5 separate regions of the Homo sapiens genome follow, and regions 1, 3, 4 and 5 are each linked to region 2. Evidence: fine-mapped QTL for protein levels in blood plasma. A gene starts in region 2. Each other region holds a variant in brackets. All regions are shown on one strand. Distances are between the middles of the regions.

Evidence for each region. PIP is the posterior inclusion probability: the model's chance that the variant is causal. The UK Biobank Pharma Proteomics Project read protein levels with antibody pairs (Olink). The fine-mapping took linkage between variants from a reference panel, not from the people measured, so its PIPs are less certain.
Region 1: its variant is fine-mapped to the plasma level of the HS6ST2 protein (UK Biobank, PIP above 0.99).
Region 3: its variant is fine-mapped to the plasma level of the HS6ST2 protein (UK Biobank, PIP above 0.99).
Region 4: its variant is fine-mapped to the plasma level of the HS6ST2 protein (UK Biobank, PIP above 0.99).
Region 5: its variant is fine-mapped to the plasma level of the HS6ST2 protein (UK Biobank, PIP above 0.99).

What each region holds. Positions count from the first base shown.
Region 1 is chrX:133,127,320-133,132,457 of GRCh38, forward strand. No RefSeq gene overlaps it. Among named protein-coding and RNA genes, the nearest start is that of USP26, 33 kb to the left of the region's middle. The variant A/G (reference allele first, on the strand shown) is at 2,954.
Region 2 is chrX:132,956,029-132,961,166 of GRCh38, forward strand. HS6ST2 (heparan sulfate 6-O-sulfotransferase 2) reads right to left here and starts at 2,601. Exons shown (of 5, transcript NM_001394073.1): 1 at 2,147-2,601; 2 at 780-1,298. The coding sequence starts at 2,574. LOC124905219 (a long non-coding RNA gene) reads left to right here and starts at 1,407. Exons shown (of 2, transcript XR_007068337.1): 1 at 1,407-2,848. RefSeq lists an enhancer at 1,980-2,480.
Region 3 is chrX:132,046,045-132,051,182 of GRCh38, forward strand. The region is part of intron 2 of STK26 (serine/threonine kinase 26); the gene reads left to right. Among named protein-coding and RNA genes, the nearest start is that of STK26, 25 kb to the left of the region's middle. The variant T/G (reference allele first, on the strand shown) is at 2,221.
Region 4 is chrX:132,694,007-132,699,144 of GRCh38, forward strand. The region is part of intron 3 of HS6ST2 (heparan sulfate 6-O-sulfotransferase 2); the gene reads right to left. Among named protein-coding and RNA genes, the nearest start is that of HS6ST2-AS1, 29 kb to the left of the region's middle. The variant GC/G (reference allele first, on the strand shown) is at 2,760.
Region 5 is chrX:132,082,629-132,085,719 of GRCh38, forward strand. FRMD7 (FERM domain containing 7) reads right to left here. Exons shown (of 12, transcript NM_194277.3): 7 at 2,953-3,091; 8 at 1,862-1,957. Among named protein-coding and RNA genes, the nearest start is that of FRMD7, 44 kb to the right of the region's middle. The variant T/C (reference allele first, on the strand shown) is at 304.

The sequences.
Region 1 (5,138 bases), 170 kb after region 2:
GGCTTCTTGGGTTTTATCATGGTGTGGTGGCTGGACTCCAAGAAGAAGCATTCCAAACAGAAAGGCAGAAACTGAAGATCACTCAAGGTTCAACCTTGGAAAATACACTGTCACTTCCACCACATTCTGCTGGTCAAAACAGGTCACAGGGCCAGTCCAAATTTACCTCTCAGTGGGAGGAATGGCAAAAGCACATTGCAAAAGAGCATGTGGGATGGGAGTTCATGCTGCAACCAGCTTTAGTAACATATTCCACCACAATCCTGAAATTTGCTTTTTACTTTCCCCTTTGCTGCTTTACTTCTCATTTTCTCCATATATTGGATTTTTAATCAGATCAGGTAGATGAACCAGATTAGAATATATTAAGTGCACAAGATGTTGTGCTCTTAGTTTGCAAACTATGTCAGTATAGATCAATCACGGGGAATGGAACCAGGCAATATCTATCTGAGGATTTTAAGGAGTTCAAGGGAGAAATTGTGGTGCTGTTTGTTAAAATGTATAGTCTGTGATTCTAGAAATTTATTCTGCAAAAAAGAGCCCAAATTTTCTAGTGTCTATGTGCGAGGCACCATTATAAATATTTTATATTATTAATCACCTTATTTAATTTTCACAGCATTTTGAGGTGTATTTTATTGTCTCCATTCTCTAGATGAGGAAATTGGGGTCCAGAAAATTAGATTAACTTGCCCAACTTATCACACCTAATAAACAGGTGGAGGCCGGGTGTGGTGGTGTGTGCCTGTGGTCCCAGCTACTCAGGAGGCTGTGGCCAGAGGATTGCTTAAGCTTGGGAGCTCAAGGCTGCAGTGAGCTATGATCACACCACTGCACTCTTGCCTGGGCAACACAGTGAGACCCTGTCTCATAAATAAATAAATAAGTGGACCTTCAAATTCAGTTATGTCCAACTCCAACTCCTTTGCCTGATGGGGCCAGAGGCGGTCCTCTAAGGTACAAGAACCAGGGTAGGGGTCCTGATGGCTGATGTCTAAGGGAAGTAAGGATTTACAGATCTACAGTAAAAGTTGGAAGGGAGGAGCAGCAGCTGGAATCATACAGTCTGCTCAAAATCAGGCTAGTTAGAAAAATTTGTAAAGGGCTACAATGAGCCAGAGATTAAATGTAACCTGCTTGTGAACAACAATATGGTTTGTTGGAGAAGAATTAAACAAGTTATTTTGTGAGATAACAGAGGATATGGATTCAATACATTTCTGTGTACCTACTATGAGAACTTATAACTGTCCAGAGGAATAGTCTGAAAGTGAGAAGTAACAAAACAAGAAGCTACCTACACTGAGTCCTATGACAGCTGAAGGCCCTTGCAGCCACTGCTCCAGGGCAGCTGGAGGGGTTGATATGAGAAGTTTGTTCAAAGTCCACATCCTTCAACAAAGTGGGGAGCAAAATTCCACTGAGCTACAAATGGAAAGCTATTGAGGTGTGATGGAAGGAGTCTTCACTTTTACATCAGGCACATTCTATTTGGAATCTTGATCTCAAACATACAACCGGTATGACCTTTGGGAACCCGTGTAACCTAGTTGAAGCTCAGTTTCCATATCAATAAATGGCGAATAATAGTATGTACTTTCCAGGGTAATTACGTGAAACAAGAAAAAAATCTGGCTGTAGGCAGTGGCTCATGCCTGTAATCCCAACACTTTGGGAGGCTGAGGCAGGAGTATTGCTTGAGCCCAGGAGATCAGTACCAGCCTGAGCAACATAGTATGACTCTGTCTCTACAAATTTTTTAATTAACTGGGCATGGTGGCATACACCTGTGGTCCGTGCTACTTGGGAAGCTGAGGCAGGAGGATCACTTGAGCCTAGGAGGTTGAGGCTGCAGTGAGCCATGACTGTGCTACCGCACTCCAGCCTGGGAGACAGAGCAAGAGCCTGTCTCAAAAACTGGAAATCTGTATAAGACCTAGCAGGAAGTGAACAAATATTTATTTTTTGTTTACATATACTTACTACATGCTGAGCACTATTCTAAGCACTTCACAAAATTTAACTCATTTAATCCTCATAACAACTTTCTAGGTATAAATACTAGGTGTAAATACTACTTACTAGGTATAAATGCTATTATTTTCATTGCAGAGATGAGAAAACTGAGACACAGAAAGGCTGAGTGACTTGCCCACGGTTGCACAGATAGTGAACAGGAGCACCGAGATTTGAACACAGACAGTCTAGCTTGAGAGTCTGTCTGCACTCTTAACCATTATATTACTTAAACATTATGTTAAGCTGCAATTTCTGAAGTCTCCGTCATTAAAACCTTCTAATGATTTATCCAAACAGAAGGATTTTGTATTTTATTTTCCCCCATTAAATTTGAACTTCTGCAAGCTATTTTGATGCAGGAGGCACTATTAGCTGGCAGCATGTTCAGAAACACTGCAGCAAGTTACCTTGTCTCCCAGGGCAAATTTTCCTAGGTACCATTGCTAAATAAATAGAGGTGGGGCCCTGGAGCCTCAGAGCCTGCCCCCTACCCACCCCACACTCCACGATGTTGCCTGGATGCATCTTCAGCCCACACATCCCATTTTGTGTCTGCAGGCTGGGTCAAGGAGGTTGACAGAGTTTTCATTCTTTACAAGGTTGTCATTAAGGACATACATTTTTATTTCTCTCCATTAAATTGTTGATTCCATTCTATAAAAGCTAAAATGTAGTCTCCAAGTGTGGGACAAAGTAGGCGGCTTGCCATGCATCTGACTTTCTATTTAATTTAGATAGAAAGGGGTTGAGAGATCACAGTGCATGATTTAGCCTTATACCTTTCCATGCACCAGAAACTACCACTTCATAGGAAAGTAATACAAAGCCAGAATGCACCTTGCTCCTTGATATAGGATTATGCCTAGTGGAGAAATAAAAGAATGACTTGCAGAGCAAGGTGTTAGGACTAGGCCAGTCCAGTTCAGGGCTA[A/G]TAAGGATTTACTTTGACTCAGTTTGTTCTGTCGGGGAGTTGATCATTTAATGAACAAGAAACTGTCACTCTTGGGTATGTTCTGCTTCACTGCCTTTCTCACCCAGTTCCCTTGCACCATCCAGAGCAGACTGACCCCTATCTACTTGTCTTTCTCCTTGGAAATTCCCAACATGGAGGGGGCATTGTTCAGCCAAGACAGATGAAGAAAGGACATAAGGGAGAGGGCACCTGCCTGTCATTGCCTGGGGCAGGAGAGGGAGGAGGGAGTCTTTCAATTTCCCGTTACAGCTTTTCAGTATTCTCCTTCCCACTGCTGGAAGTACTGAGCTTTGGTTCCACTAATACCCTTTCCATGCTCTGGGGAGATGCCAGGTTTGAGAAAGAGCTGCAATAACTGTCTGGTTTTCCTTTTCTGAATCTCATGGGGCCTAACCCTCAAATTTGAACCTTGAAGAAAAAAAAATCCTAAATATAACCAGTCAGCCCTCATAAACTAGTTTCCTTTCCTTCACTCCTTCCTCTGTTTGTGTCTATTAGAGAGATAGTACTGCATCGGGGTTACTGCATACACCTTGGGGAAGACTGATATTACTTAACTATCTGAATCTCAACTGCCTCATTCATATAATGCAGAAAAGAATAAAACCTACATCCCTAGTGTTTTTGTGAGAATTTGAAACATATAAAACATTTAGAAAAATATCCAGCACAAAGTAAGTGCTATGTAAGTGCTAGCTATTATTATGTCATGAAGAAGATAGGGATGGATGAAGATGAAAACAAACAGATGCTGTAGAATTTCAGAATTCTGAAGATGAAAGCTGATCTAGAGATCAGCTGGTTTATGTCACTCATTTTACAGATAAGGAAACCAAGGCCCAGACAGAGGAAATGCTGGATTCCCACATTAAAACTCTTTCTATAATGTTACATCTCAGCTAATTTTATGCCTAAGGTGGTCCAACTCTGGTTTATCTATTCTTCCAGTCAACACATAGCAAAGGATTGTCATAATGCACAACTCCAGGAAGTTGTGCAATATAGTGGCTCTATGTCTAGGTGGTGAAATACTGTGGCTGATGGACTCCAGGTTGGCCTTCATAATCCCTACTCCTGGTGTTCACACCCTTGTGTGATTCCTTCCCCTTGAGTGTTGGTAGGAGCTATGACTACTTCTAACTAATAGGAAACTGCAAAGGTAACAAAAAATACATATATGTGATTATATTACATAAGGTGCTAATGCCCAGTTGGGCATGCTGGCATATGCCTGCAGTCCCTGCTACTTGGGAGGCTGAGGCAGGAGGATTGCCTGAGGTCAGGAGTTCGAGACCGACCTGGGCAACATGGCAAAACCCCGTCTCGACTAAAAAATATACAAAAAGTAGCCAGGCGTGGTGGTGCACACCTGCAGTCCCAGCTACTCAGGAGGCTGAGGTGGGAGGATTGCTTGAGCCCAGGAGGTTGAGGCTGCAGTGAGCTGAGATTGCACCACTGTACTCCAGCCTGGGTGACAGAATGTGACTGTGTCAAAACAAAACAAAATAAACAAACAAGCAAAAACAAAGACTCTAATGCCCATCTAGCTAAGAGTGACACTTTCTTCCTTGCTGGCCTTGAAGAAGCAAGCTGTCACACGTAGAAGAAGCTAAAGTTGGCCTCCAACAATGACCAACAACAGACTGAGGCTCTCAATCTGGCAGCCTACAAGGAACTGAATCCTGTCAACAACTACATGAGCTTGGAAGCAGATCCTTTCTGTCAAACCTCAGAAAAGGCAACAGCCCCAGCTGATACCTTGACTGCCTTGAAGGTCTCTTTTAAGACCTTTAGCAGAGGGCCTGCTAAACTGTGCCCAGACTTCTGACCCACAGAAACTTCGAGATACTAGGTGAAGGGATTTAAGGAAGGGAGGTGGTATAGAACAGGGTTGTGGTATAGAAACATTTATCTTGGCTAATTGGAAGAAAAAAATCAGAGGGGATGAGACTGGTAACAGGGAAATCAATTAGGAAACTATTGTAGTGGTCCAGGAGAAGCCCGAGAGATAGCTGAGCTGGGGTAGTAGAAATAGAAATGGATGCCATAAATGATTAAGCAGATATATCATGTTCTTCTTGTTTAGAACAATAACAAACAAAAGCAAAACACCACGTGATAAACAGATCCTTTTGGTTACCTG
Region 2 (5,138 bases):
CGCCACTCCCAAAGAGCCACGGATGCCTCTCATGCAGCCAGTAGTGATAAGCAAGCCTGGGAACCATGAGCTCTCCTTGGATGTCGGAAAATAGCGACAGAGGGACACCCAGTCGCCCGGGAAGACCAGAGCCAGAGCGGGGAAGGAGCGAGGTGATAAAAGTCCGGCAAGAAGAGAAAAACAGAAAGGGTAAGAGAGAAAAAGAATAAAAGCGAGAGAGGGGAATGGAAAGAAGGAAACAGCGAGCAAACAGGAGCAGACAACATCTAGGACACAAGAGAGAAAGAGGGAGAACAAGGCAAATAGACGAAATAGGGGGGAAAGCGGGGGGAGGGAAGAATGCGGGCGCCGAAAGGAGGAAGAGAGCGCTGAAAGGAGACTTCGGAACCCGGGTGCAGAGTAGAAGAAAGCAGGGATCCAGAGACGCTGCACGGAGAGCGCGGCTCTTTAGGGCTCTCCAGTGCGGAGACTGAGTACGATGCCCCGTCCCAGCGGCCCCGTTCCGGCCGCTCGGCCGCCTCCCCCGCACGCTCTGCCAACCATCACGCAGGCCACCCTGCGGACAGACAGACGGTCAGTCCGGGGCCGGAGCGGAAAGCCTTTCTGTGGCCGCCACAGCGCGGCGAACGTGCGCTACTGGGCGCCCAGCACCTGCCCAGCCGGGGTGCAAACGCCCGGGCGTCAGGGTGCGCGCTAGGTCCCCGGCTTGGGCCAGCCGCGCCTCCCAGCCCTCCGCCCGCCTAGGCCCGGGTCCCGCTCGACTACCGGCGCGCACTCACCTGGACGGTCTCAGCCTGGCGTCGCGCTTGCCGTCCACCACGGAGGGCACACAGCTGGTGAGCTCGGTCCAGTCGGCGTGCAACCCGCAGCTCCAGCCCGTGGAGAACCTGGAGAAGAGCCAGGTTTCCCGCTTACCCGGCCGGTGGCAAGTGCATTTCTTCTGACCCACGCGGCACTCGCACGGCTGCTCCAGCTGGATGTTACGCACCAAGTGGCGGCCGAAAGTGGTGCCCCCGGTCTTCTGGATGTGCAGGAACACGATCAGGTCATCGCCCTTGATGTCGAAGTCTACCTTGCGCAGGAGGTCGCCGCGGGTGAAATTGTAGCGGGGCACGAACCTGGCGGAGCTCTCATCCTCCGAGCGGTACGGGTCCGGCACCGGGGAGCTGAACGCCTGCAGGCGGAGGAGCTGGCATTCTGTGCCGGGGCACACGTATTGGAGGACGATCACGGCAAATAGGAAGAGCATCACCAAAGCTAGCAGCAGCTTGTTGGATTTCTCATCCATGTTCCCGACGCTGGGGGAAACCCAAGCTCGTTACGTCAATCCCGCAGCTCAGCCCGCGCTCGTCGTGCCCCCGCACCGCCCCCTTCCCCTGGAGCCGCTGCTGCGCCCCTCTCCCCCTCCCCTCCGCACCGAGTACTCCACGGCGGCGGCGGCTGCGGCGGCGGCTCCCTTCCCCGCTTCCTTCCTTCCCGGCAGGCTCAGCGCTGTGGCTTCTGCGGCACACACACACCCCCACCCCGACTCCTTCCCGCGGGCCGTTCGCCCCCTCCCCCCGCCAGAGCTCTCCGGAGCTCCCCGGAGCCCCTCCACGGGGTTTAGCCCCAGTGGGACCCCTCCGGGCCCAGTCGCCCCACTCCTCAACTCACGCCCCCAGTCCGGGCCCCCGCGTGTCTCGCTCCACTCTCGGTGGCTCCCGCTCCCATCCCCATCCCGCTTCGTCCGCCGGACTCTCCGGGCTCTTCTGCCCCTATCCTCTTTGGAGCGCACACCTCTGTCCGGGTTTCTCCCCGCATGCCCCGAAGCCCTCCTTTTGCCGGCGCCCGCGCCCGCTTGCCCACCCGGTAGGCGGCCTCGAGGGAGCTCGGAGCCGGGGGCTCAGAGTTACCCTGGGGGAATGAGCCGGCCGGCAGCCCGACTTGCTATCGGAGACGCTGCGCTGCCGGTGCCCGCGGAACAGTAGCGACGGAGCCGCGGCGTGGGCAAATGCGCGCCGCACCCCTCCGGAGACCCTAGCCGGGCCACCAATGGCCAGCTGGAACTTTACGCCCTTCTCTACCCCCCGCGGCTGCCTTCCCTCCCCGTACAGCACCTTCGCGCCCTGGCCTGGGAGCGCGAACCCCGCTTTCACCTAGAACGTACCTGGCCATGGGGCCGAAAATCTTGGAGAAGATCGCACCGAGCACGTGCTTCAGCGAGTGGCCCAGGGCGGCCAGGCCCCGAGTGAGCAGGGCCCGGCAGAGGGAGCCCAGGTCCCAGCGTCGCCTGAGGACGTGCATCCGCCTGCGGCGGCCCCGGGACAGCAGCGCGAAAAGCGGGGCGCACGCGGCTCCCGCCAGGGAAGAAGACGCCTTTCGGGGCTTGTCCAGGAGCGGCCGGGTGTGGAATCCGTGAGACACACCCCTAGGAGGGCCCGCGCGAACTGAGGCGGCGACCGACCCGGGCCGGCTCGCTGCCAATTCGGCCTCTACTCTGGAATGCCGGCGGGGACAGGTGGTGCGGACGGGCGCTCCTCGCTCCGGTTGCCGCGGCGGCTCGAACTCCCGGACTGCACACGCAGGCAGTGCCATTCCCCCCTTCAGGCAACTCAGGGTACTAAGGATCACGAGCGAGCTTGAATTTATATAATAATGCCTCACGCCTAAGAGCTCGAGCCACTTCACAAGCAGAGAACCTGGGTTTTCTCTTTTCTTGGAGTACGGAGGTCACTCCGCTTAGCGCATCACTCCACTTTGGCTCGTAATTTCAACCTCTCCTAAAATAGCAAAGGCGCAAATTGGAGCTTTTCCGTCTCTCTTTGCCAATTTCCATTCTCCAGCGGAAGCGGGGGCATTTTCTGAAAAGGTAAGTCAGCATGATAAAAAGACAGCAGGACCAAAAAGCATTACAGAATGAGAATCTGACCTTTTTTAGAGCACAGACTGTCTTCTTGCTGAATCCTGTGTACCAAACCCTGTGCCTGCAGGAGGGCTTGACTCATAAAAGGTTTGTTGAATGAATGGATACATAACTAAAAACTCCATCAGAGTGAGACCGTCTAATCCAAGGTAATGTGACACATGAGGAAACTGAGGCCCAGAGAGGGGTAGGGATGTGCCCAAGGTCACACAGCAGAGCCCCAGGGTTTGAACCCAAGAAACCCAGCACCATCCACCTATTTCCTGATACTAACACCACCTTCTCTAATAAATAGGCACAGATCTTCCTCAAGCTCCAGTGTCCGAAAGGCTCTTTTCTGCTGCTGGACCAGGAATGCAGGGTTTAACAGGGAAAGAATGGATGTTCCTTCAGGAAAAGGACCCTGGGAACTCAGGAGTCAGTCTGTCCCCATCTGATTGATCAAAGGGGCTTGCTGTACATCAGGACACTGGTGTTTCCGTGACTGAGTGTGCAACTCCCTCCAGTCCCACTGCTACAGAAGGGGCACCGGTTGGCAGCAGTGTTTCTGAGCAGTGCTGTTGGCACTGGGGCCACTGAGTGGGAGAATGCAGACCACGAGCTGAGTCCTGGGGTGGGGGCATGTCCCTCCTGGAGACAGGCTCTCCCAGTATCTCCCTTGCTGAGCTCTGCTCCATCCGTTTCCTGTTCTATCTATGCCATGAAGCGGCAAGCCTAAGAATAGTCCAGAAGTCCTGGGAAATCTGTCCCTGGGCAGCACTGGGATAATCACTTGCCCCTCCTGAGCCTCAGTTTTCTTGTCTGTAAGATAGGACCAATTATGTCCCCTGTTTTGACCAACTGAGTCACCGTGGGGATGAAATGTAGAAACCTTTAGGCCACTCCAAATGTGAGGCTGTGTTTACCTGTTGCTCTAAGCTCAATGTGCCAACTGCGTCACAGGCCAAATAAGGAACAGGCCGTTCTCAGGCAATTCTGTGGCTGTGCACCCTGTCTTTACCACCCCCTAGAATTCCCAGCCCTGGCTAGACTTCTACGTGCCCCCAAACCTACTGGGGACCGTGAGGGACCCTTTGTCCAGCTGCAGACATAAGGGATAGTGGATTTTTTGGGAATCCTGAATTTCTAGCACTCCAGGCATCTCCTGTCCTGAGGTTCCAGGAACACTCTGAAAACCCAATGAACTTGTGCGAAGAAGCCAGATGCAGTAACTTACAAGGTTGACCTCTCAGCTTCCCCAAGAGCTCCCCTGGTGCCCAGGCTGGTAGTCCTAGGCCTGCTCCCCCTGAGGGCAGCTTAGGGTGTGAGCCAGGGTAGTGGGAAGCTATGGGGGTGGCCCCGGAGCTCTGCTTGCCAGCTGCCCCTGCCTTCTGCTTGGCCACTCACTGCAGTCAACCTCTTTAGCCTACCCAATAGGTGGCTCTCCTCATGGTGTCGCATAAAGATTCCCTGCCATTACACCACCTTTGTATGTAATGGCATTCATTGGGTCCCTAGGAAAATATTTCTGAAACAGGTGGGTCACAAATTCAAGCCCTCAGCAGCTAAACTACGGAGTTTCTACTGTAAGAGGGATTAGTGGCATTGGAACACAAGAAAGTGCCTTGGGTGGAGGGAAGGGGGAGGTGGTAAACAGTACGGGGGGAAAAGTCAGGTTTTACTCATTTGAGTTGTGAAAAGGAAGGTGTCCACACACCTGCACACACACTCACAGTCCAACCTTCAGAGAAAGGGCCAGTGAGGTTGGTAGTTGCAGAGCAAGAGGGACAAGGTGGGGCTGTAAAGTTCAGTTTCTGAGATATAATATGTCACTAGGATTTTTGCATTTAGAAGCCCTTCCTCCACCCCCTCATGCTGTGAGGAACAAAGAAATGAATCTCTCATACAGGAATTCATATATCAGGGCTCCTGGAAGTATAAGAAAACAGTCTTTGTGGGGAGCAGGGAGTCCCACAAACCTCAGAAGATCCCTCCAGGATTGAAGAGGCTTTTTGCTGAGAAGCAGGGAATTTTTCCTACGTGTGTCCCAAGAGCCATGTTCTCCCGAGGCCAAGGCTGGGCCTTGGCTGCATGTTGAAGAGGCTTCTTGTAATCTCGGCTGGTCTCTGCTCCCAGGAGCCAGTTCCTCTCAGGCAGTGAATGACAAAGGCTCAAATGCTCTAGATTTTGGCCTTTTGGGGAAAGACTGGGGGTAGGAGGCAAAAAAAAAAAAAAGGGAAGAGAACTGGCCGAACTG
Region 3 (5,138 bases), 910 kb before region 2:
TTCTTTCCATATTTCATTTTTCTTTGGAAAAATGTGATATGTGGTTAAGTGACAATAGAATCAAAGAAATGTCTCATTCTTCTTTACTCCATTGTAAAATGAACTGTCTTACAAACATGTAAAGAACAGCATTCTTCACATCCCAGAATGTATCCTGCTTGCTTTCTTGTTCTTTTCCTCTGATCTGAGCTGGGGTAAAAAGAGGAATGCAAGTTAGCAGGCAGAGGAAGCTCTTTTCCTATCCTCTCGTGAGTAGGAGGAATTAAGATGAAGGAATATTATCAATTATTCTTTTGTTCTTAAAGATGAATTAGACTCAAAATTATTAGTCAGGAGAAACTCCTCAAACTGCTATGTTATTCATACGCTATGTCAAAATCTTTTGTAATAATTTTAATGAAGTTATCCTTTACTAAAATATCTCATTCTAAGTATTTTTGCTAATGAGATGCATTTAAAAATAAGAATAATAAAATAAAGAGAAGATGAAAAAGTACCTATACAATTAATTTTATTTCTGCCTTATGAACACATTTTTCTTGCTGCTATGCACAAAATTGCTGAAAGTTTAAACAGTTGCCTTAATAGTATGAAATAATACTGTGTGAGACCTTTGACTTTATGCTTCACCATTGAGACCAGGGTTGGAGTGCTGTTGCCTCATTCGTCTCAAAACTGCCGTTTAAGTAGGTGGGTAAAGATAAGGAGTCAACTGTGAGTTGATAAAATGCTGTCTGATGACCACAAGGAAGCCCAGGGTTGATGTAATGACATATCCCTACTACATTTCATTTATCTCATTTCATGCATGTAAAATCTGGGAATTTGACTGCTACTTTATGTTGCAAAGGCAAGTTATAATAAACTTTGAGAAAGATGTAAAAATGTAAGTATACCATAAAAATAGGTAAGCTAATAACATTTTCATTGTACACTTAGTTAAAATATTTTGAGCCCTTATAAATATGGAAATACAAATTTAAATGACTGTCCACATAAAGAAATTTAACCTGAAGCCAAATTCTTCATGTTTAATTTGAAACATATACAGACATACTTAATTTTTATCTTAGTTCTTATTCTGTCATATGCAAAATACAGTGGAGCTAAGTATTTCACTTCAGAAATATAAATCACAGGGATCTCTAAAGAATTCCATAAAATTTTATCTGATAACTTGTAGTATGAACCTGAAGTTGTGCAAAGTAAAAAATTACTCTGCTAACATCACATTTTTCAAAGGTTGAGAAAATTTTGTGGGGAGTTTATTTTATCCTTCTGATTATTAAAGTAATCTGAGCATGCATGGTCATTTGAACAATTCTAGGCCTGCATAAACCTAGCACAAAATTAACAATTGATGCTAAATGTTGTTTTTTATTCCTGGACAATTTCATCAATTTGTGGGGGGTTTTAAATGAACAGAACTGGAAACCTTAGTATTAAGGGTTACTGAAGTATACAACAAATCACTGATAAAGCTGGAATTGGAGCTGTTGGATTCTTGACATTGGATCCTATGGGAATCATGATATGGAATGGCATCACTACTTTATCTCCTACACTCTAGAGGCTAGCCCATTCCAGCCTAGTTATTGACATGGAAAAAAAAATAGTCTGAGAAATGCCAGAAAGTCAAGATTACTTATGAATCATTTTTCTTTAAAATTGTAATATGAAATATTTGGTAGTTGTGCATACATATGAGGGCCAATCAATTGCATAGTGGTTCAACAATTATTAAAAAATTGCATCATTTTCACCAACATCTTTCCCACCAAACCCCAACCACCACAGTCTGGTTACCATTCTACTCTAGTTCTATGAGGTCAATTTTTTATATTCCACATGTGAGTGAGATAATGCAGTATTTGTCTTTCTGTGCCTAGCTTTCTTCACTTAGCATACTGTCTTGCAGGATCATCCATGTTGTTGCAAATGATTGGTAAAAGGATACAAAATTTTAGTTAGGAGGAATAGGTTCAGAAGATATACTACACAACATGGTAATATAATTAATAATAATACATTGTATTCTTGAAAAATACTAACAGAGTGGATGTTAAGTGTTCTCACCACAAAGATAAGAAATATAGCATGTAATGCATGTTAATTAGCTAGATTTAGTCATTTCATGATGTATATACTGTATATTTCAAAACATCTTATTGTATATGATAAATACATACAATTTTGTCAGTTTAAAAAATTAATAAAAAT[T/G]ATATCAGTTTAAATATAGAAAAGTCCTATTTTAAATTTTTTCAATTCTTTTAAGTTTACATTTTTCAAATTCTTTAAGCATTGGGATAGTACAGAGTAGACATTAGACAATTGTGTGATCTCTTTACGATGGAAAATAATTTTGCTTTTATAGCAAAAGGGGTTATAGTTTAAATTACAAATAAATCCTAGCTGTAGTGAAGGAACCTTAGACATAACAGTCAGGAGATCTGCGTTCAGATTTAAGCTTTGCCACTAGTTAACTACCTTTTATCTTTGAACAATTTGTAACCTCTCCAGGGTATAGTTTCCTCCCTGTAAAAATATATTTTGGACAAGTTTGCTAAGTTCCTGTTCATCTCAAAGATTATCTAATTCTTTTAATTTCAAGAGTCTGTATCTCTTCTTAATTTCTCTAAGACTTACCATTTTAACATAAATGGCCTTAAATTACATAGCTTCCATTTAGTGATCCTAGCCTAGGACAAAACGGGTATACAATAAATGCTTGTTGCTGATGGTGATGATAAAGAGTTGGATTGAATGACCTATATACATTTCCTTCCATTTCTAAAAGCCCGTGATTGAGAGAGCAGCCAATTGTATATGGATTATATCTGGCACTTAAAAAAGATAGTGTCCTGTTTTCTCGAACTCAGCACTGGTAAGAGTTATACGGCTGTTGACATTAAAATTCTGTTTTTTGTTTGTTTGTTTGTTTTGTTTTGTTTTGAGAAAGGCTCTCACTGTGTTGCCCAGGCTGGAGTGCAGTGGTGTGATCATGGCTCACTGTAGCCTCGCCCTTCTAGGCTCAGGTGGTCCTCCCACCTCAGTGTGCTGAGTAGCTGGGACTACAGGCACGTGCCACCATGCCTGGCTAATTTTTTGTATTTCTTTTTTAGTAGAGATAGGGTTTCACCCTGTTGCCCAGGCTTGTCTTGGACTCAGCTGAGCTCAAATGATCCACCTGTCTCAGCCTCCCAAAGTGCTGGGATTATAGGCATGAGCCAACTGCACCTGGCCTAAATCTCCTTTTTTTTAAAAAAATGATATCTTGATTAGGAAACATTCAGCAAACATTTTAGGCAATGTTCATAAGGGCAAGTGAAAAATCTTAACACAGGCAATCATAATAGAACAGTAATTTAATTTGAGGCTCATAAACCAACTAGAGAATGACTTTTATTTATATGCATTCTGCTTCTTAGATGACAGGAAACTGTATATACATGGAAGTAATCCAGAAAAACATTTCGTCTCTAGCCTGGGAGAACTGATTTGATCAATTTAAACAGGTAGCTAAATATCTCTAGTTTAGTACATTGTTAGGCTGAAGTTTTTAGTTGCTCTCTGTGATTGTCAGGGCACTTTGTATTCACTGCAAGTCACTCCTGGTGTTCCCACTTGAGGACTTCAAGGAAGTAAGAAATCTTCTTTTAAGCCTTGATATCATTAGCACATTATTTGCTCATTATTTCCTGTAACACTCCTCCTCATCAATGAGTCACTGATAGGCCTATATACAGGCCAGTCTTTGTAAAGTGCAAAAAGTTATTTTATAGCTACAGCATTCATAGTATGGGCTTTATTAATGTAGGAAGGCAGGTGCAAAACAATTCAACCTTACTCAGCTTGGTTCTTAGTTCTGGAAGATTCTTTTAGGATACGTGAGTTGAATCCTTCCAGGTCAAATCCTGTGAGAAATCTGCCTCCTCTTCCTTACATCTATTATGTTTTCACTCTCAGTCCCAGAGTCTTACTGGGGGTCTTAGTTAGGTAGTTCAAATTCAAAGAACTAGATTCTTTACCTTGGTTCTTTCCCACATTTTGCTCTCTAGGTCCCCATTCTGCGAGAACTCCAAGACTAATTCTAAATCCGTCTTCAATGTTCTTGTTTCTCCTGGCCACCAATTCCTAATGCCCCCCTCCACAAGTTGACCCATTTTCTACTAACTAGATCTAAAATTTTATCCTTCATCAATGTTGGCTGTTATCCTCAAAACTCTGTCATCAGTCACATCTTAACCTATTATAGGCCCTATCGACAATACATAGACTATATTGGGTATAAACAATGTTTAAGAATATGTATACAAAGTGTACGGGATATGTTGCTTGTGTTTTGACAAACATTATGTTTCTAATCTTGAGTCATCCCTCGGGATTCCAGGATACCTTCTTCTGCTGTGTATACCAAAATTGGTGCATACTCAAGTCATGCAGTCGACCCTGCGGAACCCACATATATGAAAAGTCAGCCTTCCCTATACATGGGTTTCACATTCTGGAAATATTGTATCTTTGATCTGTGTTTGGTTGAAAATAAATTCGTGTGTAAGTGAACCTATACAGTTAAAACCCATGTTGTTCAAGGGTCACCAGTGCTAATTTTAGAGACATATCCTTAGAAGAAGTATTGCAGACTTCATTTTTAAAAATATAGGTATGTATAGTAAATGCCAAAGTCCTCTTAGTTTTACTTTAATCTCCAACTTGTCCACTTTTAATGTACAGAATTAGATGAGACCCATATGCTTGCCTGGGAAAAATAAGGATAATGGGTTCCCTGTAATCAAGGATACAAATTTCACATCCATCTGCTTAGTGGTTCCCAAGTGCTGATGTCGAGACTAGTGTTCAAATGACTACACAGGAATCATTTGGGGTGCTTTTTCAGAAGTATTGGTTGCAAGGCCCCAGTCTCAGTAGGCTGAATCAGTAGTTTTGGGGTAAAGCCTAGGTATCCACATTTTAAAAGTGATATAGGTAGTTCTAATTTATAGCCAGGATTGGAGAGCACCTAGAGAACTTGTAAGAGTTCTTTCAGCTGTCTGTTTCTGTGGTTTAAGTATCCAAGAAGGCTTCTTCTATCTGCTCCTTACTTTGCACAGGAGACAAGCAAGATGTTCACCTAACAT
Region 4 (5,138 bases), 260 kb before region 2:
AGCAATTTAACGTGTTTTAACATAACCAATTGTTTGAAAATAAGACTCGTGCCCTCATCCCACAAACACTGAGTGCCTACTGGTGCCAGGCACTGTGGAGGGTACTAGACAGACAAAAATGAATGAGACAACAGCACCAGACTCGAGCGGTGCACAGCCTGGTAAGGGATACAGATGATTCAAAAACAATGTGGCTCCTCTTCTACCACTTGACTGCAGCTGCCCTCTAAAAAGTCATCAGTGACTTCCTGCTGGCCAAGACCAGTGACCTCTTTTTAAGAATTGGACTCCTTGGCAATCCTATTCCTATGACATTTCAAGAAAGACTGGAATGAACATAAGGACCCAGCCCTGCAGATATCTAGGGGAAGAGCATTCCAGGTAGAAAGAGGAGCAAATACAAAGGCCCTGAGGCAGCAAGAGGCCTGGTATATTTAAGGTAAAGCAAGGAGACCAGTGTGATTAGAGAAAAATGGGCCTGAGGCAGGGTAATAAAATATAAAGTCAGAGATGGAGCTTGCAGGAACCTTGCAGGGTTGGTTGTTGAAGGAGATGGAGAGCCACTGCTGGGCTGGGAAAAGAGGAATGACAACATCTCAATTAACATTTTAAAAGGGTTATCACTGTGGTTAGACAAGACTGTAGGGGTCCAATAAAGGAAGCAGGGGAGCCAGCTAGTAGGCTTTTACAGAAGCCCATGTAAGAAATGATGGCGGCTTGGACTAGGATGACAGAGCTGATGGTGGCGAGAGGCGGTCAAATTCCAGATATATTATGCAGGTGAAGTAGACAGAATTTGCTAGTGGATTAGACATGGCCTGGGGGAGAAAAAGATATGCAAAAGATACCTTGAAGATTTTCCCCTGAGCAACTGGTAAGGACAGAGATGCCACTCACTGAGGCGGGGAAGATTGGGAGAGGACCACGTTCTGGGGAAATGTCAGGAGTTTGTCTGGGGGCAGGTGAAGTTTGAGATCCCAACTAAACCTCCCAGTAGAGACAGGAGTGGTGTGAGAGTTGCAGGAGTCTGGACCCCAGGGACGAGGTGGCGCTGGAGATATATGTGGAAGCCAAGCCTCTCTTGTGTCTTTCAGCATCCTCTCTCGCTAGCTACAATGACTCAACCAAACCCATCCGCCACTTGGTATAAGAGCAAGCTTGACTGCAGCCAGCCTGGCTTCTTCATCCTCACACATCATGCCCACCCTAGCCTGTGTTCTCAGGGCTCACTTGTCCTGGAAGAGTAAGGCTTCCAGTGATGGCAAAAACCTCTTAAGAAAGTACTATGGTAATGGGTGCAATACAGATTGTTATCCTAATGCACTATCTTTCTCTAAGGAAACACAATTTTGATGGAGTTGCTTTTCATAGATTCTTATAAAATGTACTAGCATCAAAATGTGAAGCTCTAGATGTATTCAAAATGGTGTCCCAGATACCAAAGGAGTTTCTTGAGAAACAAATGCTTAATCAGATTTTCCCAAAGGGGTACCTACTATCAGCTCATGTGCCCTCAGATTAAACTATGGGGGTATTATTTTGGGGAAGGCTGATAAATTATAAGCAGTCAAAGTAAGAAAAATCACACTATATTACATCTTGCAAAAACCAATGGAAGTGAAATAAACCAGATACTAAAATCCATCTGTAAGTCCTCATCATTTTGCTGCACTCACTTGAGTGCATTGTTAGCACCTTACTAAAGTCATTCGCTGGCTGGGAGCTCGACAAGTACTAATTATTCTCTTCATTTCCATGCCCCTGCAAACAAGACTCACAAAAGTTTAAAAGTGGTTACCTTTGAAAGCCTGGTGAACACAGCGTGCTTAAAATTATCCATAGAACATTACAACCAGACAGATATCCAGACAGAAAGTTGGACAAGAATATGCATGGTAGGTTATGTGAGTTTTTTCATCCTCAAGTGTTAAGAGTTAGAAGAGTAGGCTGAGTTCTTCCATTTGGGCATCAGAGGTCATTTGCAGATCCTGACATAACTAATCCTCTGAGTCGGTGGAGGAAAGGGTCGGCCAAGCCAGTCAGAAAAGGTCTGAATGCTGGCCTCCAGGAAGCTGGGCAAGTGCTAGGTAAAAGGAAATCTGCCAAGTTTTCACCATGGCAGTATCAAAAGCGATGAGACGATTTTGTGGATCTGGCTGCTGCTCTCTGTGATTCACAGTTCACTGGTCTACCATGATTTGGGCTTTGTTCTATTTTTGTGAAACTTGTGTATGCATGTATGTGGCCAGTCTGTCTGTCTCCATGCCTGCCCGTGTATATCTTTACCTACCCACCTGCCTGCCTTTTCATTTACCTTGCAGCTAAGAGTAGAACCAGGGAGTTGGTAAGTTCTATAGAGTCATATTCTAGTCCATCCCTTCATCTTACACATGAAGAAACCAAGGCCCAGAGAGCAGTGACCTGACCAAGGTCTCTCAGTAAATTTCATGACAGAGTTGGAAGGTAATCAATAGGGTGGCTGATTTTCAGTTCTTGGTCTCTGTCCACCTCTGGCTCAGCCTCTTGCTACTTTCTCTCTCTGTGTCTCTTTATCTCTGCATTTCTATTCCTGTGCCTGTCTCTGTGTCTCTCACAAACACATGAGCTTTGGGAAATTAACCTTGGTTTGGCAGATGTTCTACTGTTTCACTACTTTCTTACAAATGAATACATCCTTATAAATATTTAGTAGACTCCCATTATTTTACTGCAGTACCTCAGCTCCAAACTTTGGTCATGTTTCGGTAATATTCCCTTTT[GC/G]AAAAAGGTCACACTAAGCGCCTTTATTATGACACAGATGTTGCTTTCCCTGTGGGATTATTAGGAAATATCTCAAGGCTAGTTTCTTAAATTAATTTTTATGATACCTCTTCTTCCCACAAGTTGACCCTTACCTTAGAGTATTTAAAATACTGCACATATTTCCCCATGGCAAATCAAGAATTCACTTTTAATTTGATCCACACCTTCCAATGTAACTTGTTGATAGTAAAAAAGAAAGGAAGAACATTGCTTGCATTTTCATCAAATAACACTGTAATCTATTACATGTCATATACAAAATACCTTTTAACTTGAAAAGTCACAAAAAGAAAATACTCTCTAGGGGATTTTCCCAATCCTGTAGAATGTGACTTGCCACTTTCTGTTTTCTTTGGATTTATATGAGAAGGGAAATGAGCATATCAGGTGTGTTGGATATTCTTTCCAGTTTGTTGTCTGTTTTAGACTATAAGCTCCCAGAAGACAGGGCTACATTAATCCTCTGTTCAGTGTCTATTTAGTGTCTTATGCAAACAGTCAATGAATCTGTGCTTTTGGCTCAGATTTGCTACTAGAAATGGAGCTGGTGTTGCAAAAAGAAAAAAAGAGAAAGAAAAATTAAGGCCGGCTCTTCACAACAGGTCACATGAGAGTTATTCTGAATCGGTCTGGTTCTACATTCAAGAAGAAACCACAGAATATTACCTATAAAAGCTACTTATTTTGAAACTAGACCTCACCATTATACCTGCCTTTAAAACTGGCAGATAGATTGAAAGTGTATGCATGTGAATCATGCCAAGAGTCCAAAGATATTTATATGAGGTGAAGAAATGAACATACCTGCCCCATCACTAGCTTTAGCAAACCATAGAATAGTTCCCTTAGTAGTTTCTGACCCAACGACTCAACCTAGAGCAGACTCCTTGAAGTACCAAGTATCTACGTTTATACATATTAGTATGAACCATATTCTACCACAACGGTTAGTTCTATCTCCCAAATTCAATGTGAGCTCCATAAAGACAGGATCTCTCTCTAATTCACCTCTGTACTCCCAGTGCCTGGCAGAGTAGTTGCTCAAGTAAACACCCATGGAGAATATCAATGCTTCTCAAGACAGGGAGCTAACGTCACACTAAAGATGTAATTAAATGGCTATCATTGGCTTCTTCTCATTTTACAAAACCATCTCTATTAGATATCCTTTAATGGGGACATGTCTAGAACGATCACTAAACGGACATGGTAGATATCACTTAAGTTAGTACAAGAAGGAGCACACAAGGGGTCCTCAATTCTCCTATCATGGCTTCCTTTGTCTGTTCATCTTCATCTTGACATTCTAGCTTATAACATTCTTGCCTTTCCTAGACTCAAATTGATTGTATCTCATCGAAGTGGTGTATTAGCATTCTACAGATTTATTTGATACAAAATAGCATAAATGAAACTCCACTTTATTTGGACTAATGAAATGAGAGAACTAAATTATAATTGTGACAGAATCAAATTTCACATGTTACTGCTGTACTACATAGTTTGGAATGTCTCTGAATGTTTATTTTATGTACCAATATAACAGCTAAAGTACATTTGCCAATGATGACAAGGGTTGACCAGAATTGAGGAGAGGCAGAGAACTGGAGACAGTGCTGTTGGTAGCTATAGATGCCTAAATGCTTGCCAAAGGATAACACCCATTGCTGGAGCCCTTTCACTGCCTTTAAAAACATGGGCGTGCTTATCACTAGTTAGTGTAGTATATATTTTTACTGACACTCAAAAATATTACAGTAATTACATATATACCCTCATTTGGGGGCAAAACTTTTATCAATCAATTTGATCTTCCATTATATATTTATAAGACCTGGCCCCATATCATTTTTGATGTTTCCAAAAATCAAATCCATCCACAAAGGATAAGTTTGCCCCACAATGAGGTTATTCCAAAGGCTACATATCCCCTATCTAGCACTCCACTTAATTCTTTCATAACATTCATCACAATATGGACACATTTTGTTGACTTGCTTCCTCCAAATTATCTATATCTGCCACCAGAATATAAGCTCCCTGAGAGAAGGAACTATATTTGTCTTATTCAATTGTCATATCTCTAGCATTAAGAATCGTGCTGAATTATGGTAGGTGCTCAATAAGTGTATCTGTAATGACTGAATTAATTAATGTAGTAGTACATTTTCAATCACATTACTGGAAAATCACCAAGTTAAGAGGCCCCCTCCAGTTTCTCCAAATCTATTGAAGGACACTACCTGTTTTCCCTCAGCCCCAGAATGACCCAGAGCCAATTGACCTATGATTGTAGGCCATGAAAATTAGTGAACAAAAGTACCCATTGCCAAGAC
Region 5 (3,091 bases), 870 kb before region 2:
TCTGATTTTCCACTTGGCTCCCTGTAGGTTTCACACCTGCTGAAACCTAATGATTGGCAACCTTGCGAGGAATAGACAGGGCCACTGCTCACAAACAGAGCCTTCTCTAAGAAGCAAATATTGCTTTGCACACTCCCCTCACCTTAAATACCTTTTTTACTCACTCTTCTCTGCCAGAAACATTTTTATGAAGTAAATTAGATTAAAATCATGTCAAAGGGCATCTTTTCAAGGTGAGAAGTTATAAATGACCAACAGGAAACAGGAGGGAGGAGAAGATTTCCTTATAGATGGAAGGGTTTA[T/C]AAGATGATTACATGTACATAAGTCTGTTGTTTTCTTGAGACAAGGTGTCACTCTGTTGCCCAGGCTGAAGTGCAGTGGCATGATCATCACTCACTATAACCTCAAACTCCTGGGCTCAAGCAGTCTTCCTGACTCAGCCTCCTGAATAGCTAGAACTACAGGCATGTGCCACCATACCCGCTTAATTTCTTTGTAGTTTTTTTTGTTGAGATGGGATCTTGCTATGTTGCCCAGGTTGGTCTCAAACTCCTGAACTCAAGTGATCCTTCCACCTCAACCTCTTAAAGCACTGGGATTATGAACGCAAGCCACTACACTCAGTCCATGAGTCTTTTTAGTGTAACAGTTAGAAACACTTTTTCCTCTATAGGTTGTCTTGTACAATGCTCTATATTGCTCATCTAGCATATTCTAATCTTGGCTTTCCAGACCTAAAGTTCGAGTTTTCCCCATCTCCTGACACTATATGTACCCCTCACATGGCATGTTTGCAGCCCTGTTTTCAGCAGCCCCATCAACCCACTGCACTGACCCCACTTCTCTCATTCCTTTCCAGGTTCCTGCATGTAGCCTCTGGGGCTCTCCATGAGCTTCACACTAAGTCCAGTTTCTTGAACTGCTCAATGAACACTTTTCTATAAGGTCAAGATGCAGAGAATAAAATCCAAACTGCTGGATCTTCAGTAGGTCAAAAATTAGTTGATACACACTTTTTATTTTCTTTATGGTCATAAGAAAATTCCTTTCTAGACTAAGTGGCTCATGCCTGGTAACGTCAGCACTTTGGGAGGCCAGAGTAAGAGGATCATTTGAGGCCAGGAGTTTGAGACCAGCCTGGGCAACATAGTGAGACCTTGTCTCTACAAAATATGTTTTAAAAATTAGCGAAGTGTGGTGGCACATGCCTGTAGTCCTAGCTACTCAAAAGGCTGAGGCGGTAGGATCACTTGAGCCCAGGACGTTGAGGCTGCTCTGAGCTACATGTCACCACTCCACTTCAGTGTGGGCAACAGTGTGACCCTATCTCTAGAATAAAAAAAGAAGATCATTTCTAGCACCTTTGTCTCACCCTTTACTATGCAACCTTGCCCAAAAACTGTTTATTTTGCTTACGTGTATACCTGACTCCCACATCCTGCTTGTTTTTGGCATATACTAGGTGTTCAATAATTTTTGCTTAAGGAAAGTAATTGAAGATACTTTATAAAATGGAACAGATAACATCATATGAATGTATTCTTAGTCCTAGATCTGGTCACTCCCATTTGACTTATCAAATCCCTAAAAAGCAGTTTCCAGGGAGACTTGCCTTTCAGCCGAGCTGCCCCATTTTCCTATTACTTTGTTAACTCTAAACTGCCAATCAGATTTCTTAGTGTTTTGCCTTTAGTAAAAAATGATTAAAACTCTGGTTGATTTCTTCAAAGGCAAAAGAAAAGACACACCATCACTCAGGGCCAGCCGGCTTTTACAATTTACATTCAAACGATTTGCAGAAACAACCAAAAAAATTCCCAGTGAACAGAAAGTAAACGAATTTATTAGAAAGCTACTTACCAAGATATTGGCATGAAGTTTGATGAGAAAATGCTTTCTCTTAAAACTCAACTTGCGGATTTTAGCCCAGTTAAAAGTATTGATCTTTGTATTTCCCTACAATGAAAAATGTGGCAGATTTCAGAATGTATTAACAAGAGTTGGCTTGTAAGACAGTGCAAACCTGATAGAAAATGCACTTAATGAGAGGGACCGCCCTTGACCCATCTCTTGCACAGATTGATCCTGCTGCACTGGGTAGGAGCTGTGGTCAAAGAAGGCATTTCAGGTGGGATACAAGGATGCTCTGGAATGCAAGCAAGAAGGGGTATGCCTAGGGAAGTTTTCTGGCCAGCACAGGGAGATCACAAGAGGAAAGGATTACTACAATAGCTTTTCTAATCTCGCCCCTTTCCCATGTTTCCCGATTCATCTGCTAAAAACAATGTCCTCTTTCTCCTGACACCCCAATAGCTCAAACACCTTCAATAGCTCCTCACTGCCCACATCACATCATGGCCATATCTTGCTGCCTCATCTATATTGAATATATAACCTTTGTTCCCACTAATTCCAAAACACCCTTTCATCTAACTCTATACCTCTCTCCTGCAGTCTCCTCATTTTCCTTGCCCACAATGCCTTCCACATAGTCAAGCCTTCTTGCCAGCTCTGACAGACCCTTCTCTAGGCTATTCTGTTTAATTACTGCAGCCTACACCCATTTCCAACTCCTCTAAACTCCCTTGGCTTTCCTGGTCGGTCCAACCAGCTTTGCTTTTTTGCTTATTTGTTGTTTGTTCAACAGGTAATCTATTCGCGTGGTCTGAAAATCAGAGGTATACAAAAAGATATATATAGAAAGAAGTCTCACTCCCACCACTGTCACCCCTATTTCTGTCCCCATCTATCCATTCCCTGCAGTTAACTATGTTTATTAGTTTGTCATGTATACTTTTCATGCAACTACAAGTAAATATGATTGACCATTTCCCTTTCTGGCTGGTGATAATACTGAGGGGTGAGATCACCTTGGGAAAGGACACCCAAGTTTGAGCCAAGATAACCACCCCTCACTAAAGCTGAAGGGCTTGAAAGGAAAGAGATTTTACCCGTAACACCAGTACTCCCATGTGAGCAACAGCCAGGTGAATCTGCATCCCTTCACCATCACTGGCGGGGTGAGGCCTGATGCCATACATATCCAGCTTCCTTGCTATGTCCAGTAGCAGAATGTCAGATTCAGCTGGG